Homo sapiens: one gene and its partner. The protein of the gene in region 1 interacts with the protein of each later gene in a pairwise test. Each region holds a gene or a part of one and is shown in the gene's direction. Other genes may lie near its edges.

Region 1 (5,489 bases):
GAAACTATCTCTCGGTTCCGGGCATTGGCGGTGGACCCCACGGAGTTTGCCTGCATGAAGGCCTTGGTCCTCTTCAAGCCAGGTAACTGAGTCTCTGCCCAAACCTTGAGTGGGAATTCTGGTGACTTCCATCTGCCTCTCACTCTCCCTCCACTACCCCCATGTGTGCAGATGTGTGTAGGCCTCTATCCTGGGGGGTGGGAGGAGAGTGGTGAGGCTGGACTCCCTTCTCCTTGGGGCCACTCCTGGTTGACTGTGAGGGGACAGGGCAGGCTGGGAGCCCCTGGGAGACCCTGAGCCCCAGCCGGAGCCCCTGGTGGCTCCTCTGGGCCTGGCAGAGCCCACCCCACAGGGCCCCAGGTCCATGTCTGCAGCCAGAACCCTGGGCCACCACTTCATGGCCAGCCTTATAACAGCCGTAAACCTGTGCTAAGCTCACTGGTGCTGCTTCTCCCCAGAGACGCGGGGCCTGAAGGATCCTGAGCACGTAGAGGCCTTGCAGGACCAGTCCCAAGTGATGCTGAGCCAGCACAGCAAGGCCCACCACCCCAGCCAGCCCGTGAGGTGACCTGAGCATGCGCCCACCCACTCATCTGTCCCTGACCTCTAACCTTTCTCTGCCTCTCCCACACTCTCCCAGAGCTCACTGATTAGACAGCACAAGGGTCTCAGTTCAACAGCATACAGCCAACATCTATGGTGTCCCAGGCACAGTGCCAGGCCCCGGGAGTGGGGACCAAGATGTACATAAGACAAAGCTACTGCCTTCTAGAGACAACCGGCAGTGACCTCACTGAAGACAAAAACTGCCCTAGCCAGGTACTGAGGGTTGCATGAATCTGCAGGAGACAGAGATCCCCTTGCATGGGAAACATAAAGCAGAATTGGGAGGGACTTTGTGGAGACAGGGCTGGACTTGAAAGGAAGAAGAAGTCTAAAAGAAAACATCATTTGCAAAGGGAGAGAGGGGCAAGCATGATATGTTGTTAGAACAGGAGCCCACTTTGAAGGTATAACAGGTTCCTGCCAGTGAGAAATGGGGAGAATAAGCCAGAAAAGTACCCTAGGACCAGCCCGTTCAGGACTTTGAATGCCAGCCAAAGGCCACGTCTGACTTGGGAGGCAGAGGGCAGCTACTGCAGGTTTCCGAGCAGAGGGTCATACACAGGGCTGGACCTCACGCAGACTGGCATGGCCATGGGTCCAGAGGATACTACTGGGAAGGGGATGGCAGCTACTGCCACCTTCCAGATGGTTCCATGGAGTTCTGATCTTTGGGCATGGCCAGGGGAAGCAGAAGGGAGACTCTAGGAGTTGAAATGGGTCAGACCCGGTGTTTGGGTGAAGGTAAGGAATGAGGGAAGAGGAGCTCTTTGGGAGAAGACATTGTTAAAAATATAAAAAGGAAAGCCAGGAGGAAAGACGGTTTTGAGGGAAGATGATAAGGTGTTTTGTAGGTGCACTGAGCATCCTGTAGAGATGCCAAGCACATGGATGGCCCTGGCTAGGTTTGGGGGAGAGTTGCTGCAGGCTGAGTGTGGCTGCGCGAGGGTGGGGCAGGAGCCGGTGCTCTGGGACTACGCTGTTTGGCCCAGCACAGGCAGATGTCATGGAGCCTCAGCAAGGTTGGAACATTTGGCCTTCAGGCATCTACTGGCTATTTTAGACCATGTTATCTGCAATCTTTGGGGCTCCCGGCAGTTTCTTTCTGAAGAAGCAAGCTAATATGGGCATCCTTGCATCACCTCTAATCCAAGAAATGATTACAAGGAGAAAAGGTAATTTCCTTTTAAGAAAAGCCACAGTATACAAAGTATATGCCATATAGCACAGGAAGATTTGTGCTGCTTATGAGCATAGGGAGAACGCTGCTACTACTAAGACTTGACTTAGCATCTGAAGAGTGGGATTCAGAGACATTCAGAAACCAGCAGCCTTTCTCTGCCAAGTTTCTGTTGGAACCAACTCCCAGAGATGTCCTGGCATATTGGTTATGCGTCAAATTTCAAAATGCTGATTAAGATTTCCTATGTCCCTTTTATAGCGGTTCATTGCCTACTACAAGGGAATTGAGCATGAAGATAGTGGTTTGGGGTTCTCTAATCCAGCATATTATTTCAGTTTTTAAAAACTGCAACACCCAGGAAGAAACACAATTACCATCGCCCCCTGATATGCACACAGACACCAAAGCGAAGTTCCACGAAGTAATTCCTACCCTTAGCTTTTACAATTTACCTGATGTTTCTCTTTTCTTTTTTTGAAAAGGCTGATTGTGACCCCCTGAATTTAATTTCAGACCCACTAGGTGAGGCAATACCTGCAGTTTGGAAAAAACATTCTTTAACTGACTTTATAGTTATTTCTTCTTCCTCCCACTCTAATTTAGATCAGAAAAACAGAAGCAGGGAAGGCAGATGGGAGGGGTATACGACTTGCTCAGTGCTGCTCACTTGGCACTAGCAAGAGAAAGGAAGGCCTTAGGTTGGCAAAGCAAGTCCAGCAGATCACTGAGTGGTGGGGAAGTCTTCCCCGAAATTCACGGTGAGAGGAGCATGGGACTGCCCAATGTGGAGTAGCCTCCTTGATGCTGGGTGTTGACCCTGGCCATCAGACCTACCCAGGGAAGGTTTAGTTCCCCCATCTGTCTCTTGGGGCTTCACCATCCGTCTTTTGTGTTGCGGACTCCTGTCTTAGCAAATACTTTTTTTTTTTTTTTTTTTTTGAGACGGAGTCTCTCTCTGTCACCCAGGCTGGAGCGCAGTGGCGTGATCTCGGTTCACTGCAAGCTCCACCTCCTGGGTTCACGCCATTCTCCTGCCTCAGCCTCCCGAGTAGCTGGGACTACAGGCGCCCACCACCACGCCCGGCTAATTTTTTGTATTTTTAGTAGAGACGGGGTTTCACCGCATTAGCCAGGATGGTCTCGATCTCCTGACCTCGTGTTCCGCCCGCCTCGGCCTCCCAAAGTGCTGGGATTACAGGCGTGAGCCACCACGCTCAGCCAGCAAATAGTTCTTATTTAAAACAATAAATATTTTTTTCAATGACTATCTCAGTCACCAAAATTATCCTTCAACTTCAGGACATTTTCAGTAATGGCTATCATCATCCTAGGTGGTATACAGACAGGAATTTGTATTCTTACAAACAATTCTTATCTACTAAAAACTAATCATATAATTATAATACTTATATATGAGATTAATAATAATATTTTCATATACAGGTGCTCCTTGACTTATGATGGGGTTACATCTGGATAAACCCATTGTTAAGTTGAAGCTACTGTAAGTTGAAGATGAATTTTCATACATAACCCATCTTAAGTCAAGGAGCATACTGAATGCTTATCACTTTCACACCATGATAAAGTCGAACCATCTGTATAGAGTTAATATAAACTTCACTTTATAATCTTTACATATAATAAACAATATTTACTCATTATTTTCATTGCACTCCTAAACTAAATAGAGGGTGGCGGCTCACAATGGGTCGAGGTAGGTGGAGGCAACTCCTCTGGTTAATGCGGCTTTTCTTTTTTCTTTTTTTTTTTTTTTGAGACGGAGTCTTGCTCTGTAGCCGAGGCTGGAGTGCAGTAGCGGGATCTCGGCTCACTGTAAGCTCCGCCTCCCGGGTTCATGCCATTCTCCTGCCTCAGCCTCCCGAGTAGCTGGGACTACAGGTGCCCGCCACCACGCCCGGCTAATTTTTTGTATATTTAGTAGAGACGGGGTTTCACCATGTTAGCCAGGATGGTCTCGATCTCCTGACCTTGTGATCCGCCCGCCTCAGCCTCCCAAAGTGCTGGGATTACGGGCGTGAGCCACCACGCCTGGCCTGAATGTGGCTTTTCCTCGAAATTCCTCCTGACCCACTCTGGGGACCTCATCTCTCCTCTCCTTCCTCCCCTCCCTTTCCTGGGAGGGCACCGCCCCAGGGACTAGTGCTCAGAAGCTGGTCGTAAAACTGATGGCGTCCTCTCTCCTGTTCAGGTTTGGGAAATTGCTCCTGCTCCTCCCGTCTTTGAGGTTTATCACTGCGGAACGCATCGAGCTCCTCTTTTTCCGCAAGACCATAGGGAATACTCCAATGGAGAAGCTCCTTTGTGATATGTTCAAAAACTAGTGGGGGTGGAGGTGAAATGTTTCCAAGCACTCTGGAAAACAATCTACTGAAACGAAACATTTGCCTACTCTTTGCCCCAGCAATTCCTCGTAGGTGTGTGTACCCAGCAGAAATGCCCACCGAAAGATATTGTAAGAATATTCATAGCAGCTTTATTCATAATAGCCCCAAACTGTATATTGATGGTAGGATGAATTAACAAGTTGTGGTATATTCATATAATGAAAAATAATTTAAAAAGAATGAATTACGGATACATGTGGCAACACAGGTAAACTTCACAGACATAAAAGTTGAATGAAAGAAGCCAGGCCGAAGTTCCATTTATGCAGAGTTCAGGAACAGGCAAGACTAATTGACAATAATAGAAGTTGGAATAGTGGTTACTTCTGGGTGGTGGGGGATTGATACAGAGGGGGCTCATGGGAGCCCTCTGGTGTACCAGAAATGTTGATTTTGATCTGGGCAGTGGTTTCACAAATGTATTCATACGTAATAATTCATTGAGCTGTGCACTTTATTTTGTTAGACCTCAATAAAAAAGTAAAAAAAAAAAACAAAAAAAACCAGAAAAATGAGTGTGGTCAAGGCTCTCCCTTTGGGGACACTGAAGGAATGAGCGCAAGGTCTTTGAGTTCCATCTGGGTTCCACTCCAAGTCAGAGACCAGGCGCAATGAATTCAAGCCCAGTGGAAAATCTCCCATAGAATTCAACCACCCAGCTTCTCTCCAGATGGCATCCCATCATCCGCAGCATCTCTCAACCTTTATCTCCTATCTCCTGCCTCATCTCCTTCCTAAGTAAAGAACACCTTCCAACTCAACATAAGGCAGCTACAGGTACGTTTTGTGAAAGGGACTCTTCATCACTTCTCAGGTCCTTATGGAAAGATACAGCTCAGACAAACTTCATCATTTTCTTTTTCTCTTTTTTCTTTTTTTGAGACTGAGTTTTGCTCTTGTTGCACAGGTTGGAGTGCAATGGCGCAATCTTGGCTCACGACAACCTCCGCCTCCCGGGTATAAGTGATTCTCCTGCCTCGGCCTCCCGAGTAGCTGAGATTACAGGTATGCACCACCATACCCAGCTAATTTTGTATTTTCAGTAGAGACGGGGTTTCTCCATGTTGGCCAGGCTGGTCTAGAGCTCCCGACCTCAGGTGATCCACCCACCTTGGCCTCCCAAAGTGCTGGGATTACAGGTGTGAACCTAATCCTTTTTGAAGATAGACCCAGATGACTGTGAAAATAATATTTTAACATGTTAACATAGATCAGGCAATGTATATATTAATAGCAGGCAGTGAGCCGGGCACTTTTTAAATTGCCATTTAATCCGCAGATTAACTCTGAGGGAA
Region 2 (6,077 bases), on another chromosome or scaffold:
TGGGGCATCTAGAAGGAGCCGAAGTCTAAGCCCTGGGGATGAACACTCCATGCCGCGCACCTTCTGGGGGTGGGGTGGGAGTTACTGGAATTGGGAGCTGGACTAGAGCTTGGACTTCAAGGCTGGGAAGGGTATCTGAGGTCACCCAGCCAGAAGTTCCTCAGGTGAACATGTGCCCCATGATTGATAACAGACAGGAGAGTTCCTTGGTGACATAAGTTTAGGACACTTTTTGTTGAACTTGAACAGACGGTTTACTAAAGGATTGCTCAGGTTAATATGCTCTTGTGCTATGTGCATCTGTAAGAGGTAGGGATAGGAGGCAACATTTCTCAAAGTTATCTGAGCACAGACCTCTTCATAGGTATTGTTCAGAATCAGTGTTCTAGAGAACACTCTTTGGTATATGTTACAAAGTCTAACTGCCCTCATTGAACAGAAGGGAAAACGGGTCAGAAGGGTGAAGGTGATCTGCCAAGTTCACACAACGTAACAAGTTCTGAATAGAAGGAAAATCAATCTTGGTCTGTTCCCCTTGGAGAGACTGGCCTTGAGGAAAGATGGTGGCCAGTTGATTCTGATCTTTCTAGAACTAATTCTAGGACCTTTCTTTTTTCCATATAAAGCCTCTTGCCCCTACAAAAGGGATTCATTGATTGATTAATCCATAGAACAAATGTACACTGAGGGTCTTCTATAGGCAAGGCACTTCCCTGAGTGCTTTGAGAGACAGAGAGCTATAAGAACACATTATCCTTGGCTCTTAAAATTCACAGCATACATGCCTTCCCACTGTCCTAAAATATACACTCACTTTGTCACAGTTAATTAAGCAATTTAAAAAAATGGCTTGGAAATGGAATGATGCCTCTTGAGATGACAGACCTCTCGGCATGTCTCAGCACTAGGGTTGGGAGCACTGCCATACTGCTCTTGCTTTTCATAGATCCTGAGGCATCAGTGGGGCGAGAGGCTGTGCTGTCCTCTTCCTCCTTCAGGAATTCAGCTGCTTGTCCCCTGTCAGGAGCCCCTGCCCTCTGAAAGGTTACTCTTCAGCCTGGTGGGGACTCTGCAGTGAACAGAGCTGCACCATCCCTCTGGCTTTCCCAAACTCTTGCTCCAGGGCACTTGGGCTTTGAGGGAAGAGGGACTTGGTGAAGAGGGGATGGCAGGTGGCCTCCATGTGCTCCAGACCTCTCCTCCTCTTTGCAGGTGCACTCCTCCCAGCCCAGCTCCAGAATGGCCCTGCCCCCCAGCCCCCTGGCCATGGAATATGTCAATGACTTTGACTTGATGAAGTTTGAGGTAAAGCGGGAACCCTCTGAGGGCCGACCTGGCCCCCCTACAGCCTCACTGGGCTCCACACCTTACAGCTCAGTGCCTCCTTCACCCACCTTCAGTGAACCAGGCATGGTGGGGGCAACCGAGGGCACCCGGCCAGGCCTGGAGGAGCTGTACTGGCTGGCTACCCTGCAGCAGCAGCTGGGGGCTGGGGAGGCATTGGGGCTGAGTCCTGAAGAGGCCATGGAGCTGCTGCAGGGTCAGGGCCCAGTCCCTGTTGATGGGCCCCATGGCTACTACCCAGGGAGCCCAGAGGAGACAGGAGCCCAGCACGTCCAGGTGAGTGGTCAGCAAGCTGGCCTGAGGGGAGGCAGGGCAAGGAAGGAGGACTGCCCAAGAGAGGAAGGGGAGCTCCCAGAGGGGGTTATGGACTGGGACAGGGGACAGAGGGCAGGAGAAGGGGAGAAGGTCCCTTGAAAGCAATCAGATCGAGAAAACTACATTCTGCTTCTCCCCCTTTTCTTAAAATGGAGAGAAATGAGTAGGCTGAACCAGGAGGAGCAGGGAGAAGATAAGATTAGCAGAGAATCCAAAGGGAAGAATTGAGCTGGGGAGTGGGCGACTCCGGGGGGTAAACAGATACATGGTGTGTGGAAACCAGGGAAAGGGTTATGTGTGGAGTGGAGCTGGGTTAAGACTGGTTTAGATTGGCCTTTTCAAGACTTCGTGCTTCCCAGCCCCCAACCTTCTCAGGAAGGATTGGGACTCATCCTATTAATTACAGACACAGATGGGGGTGTTGCGGGCATTAGGATGTAATCCAAATCCTGTGAGGGTCACCGGGTTGCAGGCTTCAGGACAGGGAAACGCAGCGCGTTGGAGGGTTGGGGGCTGTCTGGGTGCGGGTCCACTGGACACACCCGGGCCTGGAGCTGGATGCCGGGGATCCCAGAGACGAGCCCGGGGTTTAGGTGCGCGACGGGCTCGCCTGACCGTGGCCGGCCCTGCACCGTGGGGCGCCCGCCTGACTGGAGCAACGGTCAGCTGGGGGGCCCGGGGAGCGTCGGGGCCTGGGGCGGGCTCTGGACCGAAACAGACTGCGTGGAAGGGCGAGCCTTCCGGTGAAGGTGGGAGCCGGGGCGGGGCTGTCCCGGGGCGGAGCCAGGTAGCGTCGGGCCCTCAGGGCAGAGCCGGGTGCGACCTGGCGCTGACCCGGTTTCTGCATTCTCCCTCCGCAGCTGGCAGAGCGGTTTTCCGACGCGGCGCTGGTCTCGATGTCTGTGCGGGAGCTAAACCGGCAGCTGCGGGGCTGCGGGCGCGACGAGGCGCTGCGGCTGAAGCAGAGGCGCCGCACGCTGAAGAACCGCGGCTACGCGCAGGCCTGTCGCTCCAAGCGGCTGCAGCAGCGGCGCGGGCTGGAGGCCGAGCGCGCCCGCCTGGCCGCCCAGCTGGACGCGCTGCGGGCCGAGGTGGCCCGCCTGGCCCGGGAGCGCGATCTCTACAAGGCTCGCTGTGACCGGCTAACCTCGAGCGGCCCCGGGTCCGGGGACCCCTCCCACCTCTTCCTCTGAGCCGTTCAGAGCACCTTGTGGTGTAGTGGGGGCTGGGTGGGGTGGCTCCGCCCAGGAGGCGGCTGCACGGTTCTCTGCATCGTTACCAGAGCGCCTTCTGGTCCTAGCCACGCCCTGTATGACCGCGCAAATATCCCCAAAGCTTTTGGGTCCTCAAGTCATGCCCGAATTTAGATGCTGGTCATTTTCTGGAGAGGGGTCCCCTCCCCTTACGAACACAGAAACCCAGCCCACATGACTAGCACGCTGAGCTCTGCAGGGACCAGTGCCAGGCACTGGGGGGTGGAAGTGTGGTGACACAGTGAATGGGAGGTGGAGGAGGGTTGCAGCTCCCACCTCAGTTTAGTTTTTAATTCAGGGTTTTCAACCTGTAACACATTAAAGCTGTAATTAGCAATGAGGCTGTATTTTCATTCTGAAGCTTGTAACCTCCCCATTTTAGCACTACAGAATTTTCAAGATTTCAATATCCAACAACTAGATAGATTAGGACCTCTATCCGAGATGCTTTTTCCCTGCCCAACCCTGTGGCCTTCAGGGCTCAGAGCAGCAAAGGCCTGAAGAGTGAGCTCTGGGGGTTGTTGGTGTGGGTTGGGAGAGAGCTGTGTGCAGAAGTCTGGAAACCTGGGTCCTAGTCCCAGCTCTTCCATGGGATCCCCCTGTCACCCTGAGCAAATCAGTTGCTTCCTGGACTTGTGTTACTTCATCTAATTCTCATGTGGATTGGACGACTTCTGCTCCCTTTCCAGTTCTGGCATCTCCCCAGTATGGAAGTCCCGGTGGTCTCCCCAAGAAGTCCCCAAGACAATCTCGCCAAAGGCACCTCCTATCCTGCTGCAGTTTCCCAGCTGCAGCCTAGGCAGGGGATGCACAGCCCAGGCGAGGAAGCCTGGCTTCTCTGTGAGCACATACGTGGGTCCTCGGCAGCTCCCTCCAGGCTGTCTGGGCCTCCAGACCTGCACAGGGTGCTCCTGCCACCTCCCACCTCTCTGAGGGCTGAGGTGAGACTTCTCCTGGGATGACAATTTGCTGAGAGAGTGCAGCTTTTGTGAATTAAACTTGAAGTCCAGGCAGAATTCTAATGCAATAAGCTAAATGTTCTTGCAATTTAAGAAGTGTTCATTCTTTATCCCTGCTTCAGGCTACTGTTTGTGTGTCTGTGTGTGGGAGAGGGAGAGAGAGGGAGAGAGAGAGAGAGCAAGAAAAAGGGAAGTCCCCACCTGGAGCTGGGTGGCACATCTGTTATGGAGAGCCAATGGAAATGGGGTGGAGGGGCAGGCATTGGAACAGATGGATCCTCCCCCTCTCACCACCACCACCACCAAACTCAGAAGCCTCAGTGGCCCAGCTCGGCCTGTCAGTGGCTATCCAGGTCTCACAGTTTCCATGGTAACCCAGTCCTCCAGTTCAGCAGGCTAAGGGGAGGGCAGATGGGGCCTCTGGGCAGAGCACAGGCGTTGTGCTGGGAGCAGCCGCCTCACGAGTTACTGTCATCTGTCCTCTACCGGACATAATAAATGGGAGAAGCTTTCGGGCATGGGGGAAGAGGCTCCCATATGTCCCTCTTCCTTTCTACCCCCTCTCTCCACCCCCTCCCCAGCTGTCTCTTCTCTTCCCATCACAGTTCTTGCTCCCTCTTTCCCCTCCTCTATCCCAGCTCATCCCTCCTCCGCTTAGGAGCCTGCAATGGGAGTCCTCTCCTCCATCGCTCTCAGAATTTCTCTCGTCTCCTCTCCCTTCCCCACCATTGGCCACTGGCCATCCTCTCTGGCTCTGGATTCTCTCTCTGAGGGGCTCACAGAACCTTTAGCTTCTCTTTCTTCATCCCCTTCCACACTCATTGTTGAAGGGAGAGGATGGGGCAGGGAGGGTCCTTCCGGGAGCCCAGCTCTTTTTCTCTCACTCTAAATTTCACCTGTGTCTATCCTTGCCTGCCCTGGAGCTGTAATTCAGACCCACTACTTTTCTTGTTCACTTTTCTCACCTGCATGGCACACAAAGACAGACAGAACCATCCATAGACACCTGAGCACACAACTAGGCCACATATACAGTACCATACCTGGGTCTCAAAATGATACTCCTGGGTTACCTGAGTATACTTAAAAAAACAAAGTTGCACACTGTGGTGATTAAGAGTAGTGCTTTAGGTGGGGCGCAGTGGTTCCTGCCTGTAATCCCAACACTTTGGGAGGCCAAGGAGGAAGTTTGAGACCAGCCTGGGCAACATAGCGAGAACCCTGTCACTACAAAAAAATAAAATAAAATAAATTCAGATGTAATGGCATGCACCTGGAGTCCCACCTACCCAGGAGGCTAAGGTGGAAGGATAACTTGAGCCCAGGAGTTCGGGGATGCAGTGAGCCATAATCGTGCCACTGCATTCCAGCCTGGGTGGCAGAGTGAGACCCTGTTTCAAGTTGCAGTTCTACCAGTTTTTTGACCATGGGTGGGTTAAAATCAAGCCTCACTTGATTGTCAGAAAAATGGTGAAAATAATGGTAACCACCTACTGAGAATAAATGCATTTAAATAAGCACTTAGCATAAAGTTGACACATGCTACGTAATGATATTTGCTGTTGTTGCTGATGTGATTGTTAAGTGTGTGAATCTGTGTGTTCATGCACTGCACATCCCTGAGTCCATGAGTGTGACCCATTAAGGCCATGAACAGACACACACATTGACACACCCGGGAAACCAGACTGTATAGGCCTTAGATGCTCCACTATGTTCCCAATTCACTAGCAGACCTGCTGCCCTCCTTCAGTATCCCCCAGCACCTGCTCTTGGCCCGCCCCACAGCTGTGTGGGGGCTGGGGTTCAGCTCCTGGGGGACTCAGCAGGGCCTCTCTGGAGACAGCTATAAGAAAGCTTCAGCCTGCCCTCCTGACAGCCCGTAATTATCCTCCTATCTCCTGTAATTATTCTCCATGGTGCCTAGACCCCCTGGGGTTGGGAGGTGAGGGAGGGGGCTCCTCAGATCCCACTGGCACATAGCTGGGGTAAGACTGCAGAGACAGCAGCCTGCCTGGGGAGCTCTGTCTCAGATTTTGAAAGGTGCTGGTCCTCATTTCTTATGGTGTGTGTGGGGGTGCTGCAGGCTGCCCAGTGGGCATCTGAGGCATGATGGTTAGAGGCTGAGGTGCTAGGAGCAGTTCTCTTTATTAATGGCTAGAAAGTCAGGATCACCCAAGGAAGTCACTGAGGGGCCACAGCATTG

Evidence for each region.
Region 2: the proteins of NR2E3 (region 1) and NRL come close enough for resonance energy transfer, tested with the Homo sapiens proteins (one study listed by BioGRID).

Annotation. Positions count from the first base shown.
Region 1 is NC_000015.10:71,813,554-71,819,042, forward strand, and holds the end of NR2E3 (photoreceptor-specific nuclear receptor), read left to right. Parts: coding exon 1-82; intron 83-458; coding exon 459-564; coding exon of another isoform or gene 565-568; exon of another isoform or gene 569-1,376; intron 1,377-3,998; coding exon 3,999-4,131; 3' UTR 4,132-4,700; downstream 4,701-5,489. UniProt on the Homo sapiens protein: Orphan nuclear receptor of retinal photoreceptor cells. Transcriptional factor that is an activator of rod development and repressor of cone development.
Region 2 is NC_000014.9:24,078,011-24,084,087, reverse strand, and holds the end of NRL (neural retina-specific leucine zipper protein), read left to right. Parts: intron 1-1,212; coding exon of another isoform or gene 1,213-1,239; coding exon 1,240-1,620; intron 1,621-2,519; coding exon 2,520-2,852; 3' UTR 2,853-5,426; downstream 5,427-6,077. UniProt on the Homo sapiens protein: Acts as a transcriptional activator which regulates the expression of several rod-specific genes, including RHO and PDE6B. Also functions as a transcriptional coactivator, stimulating transcription mediated by the transcription factor CRX and NR2E3.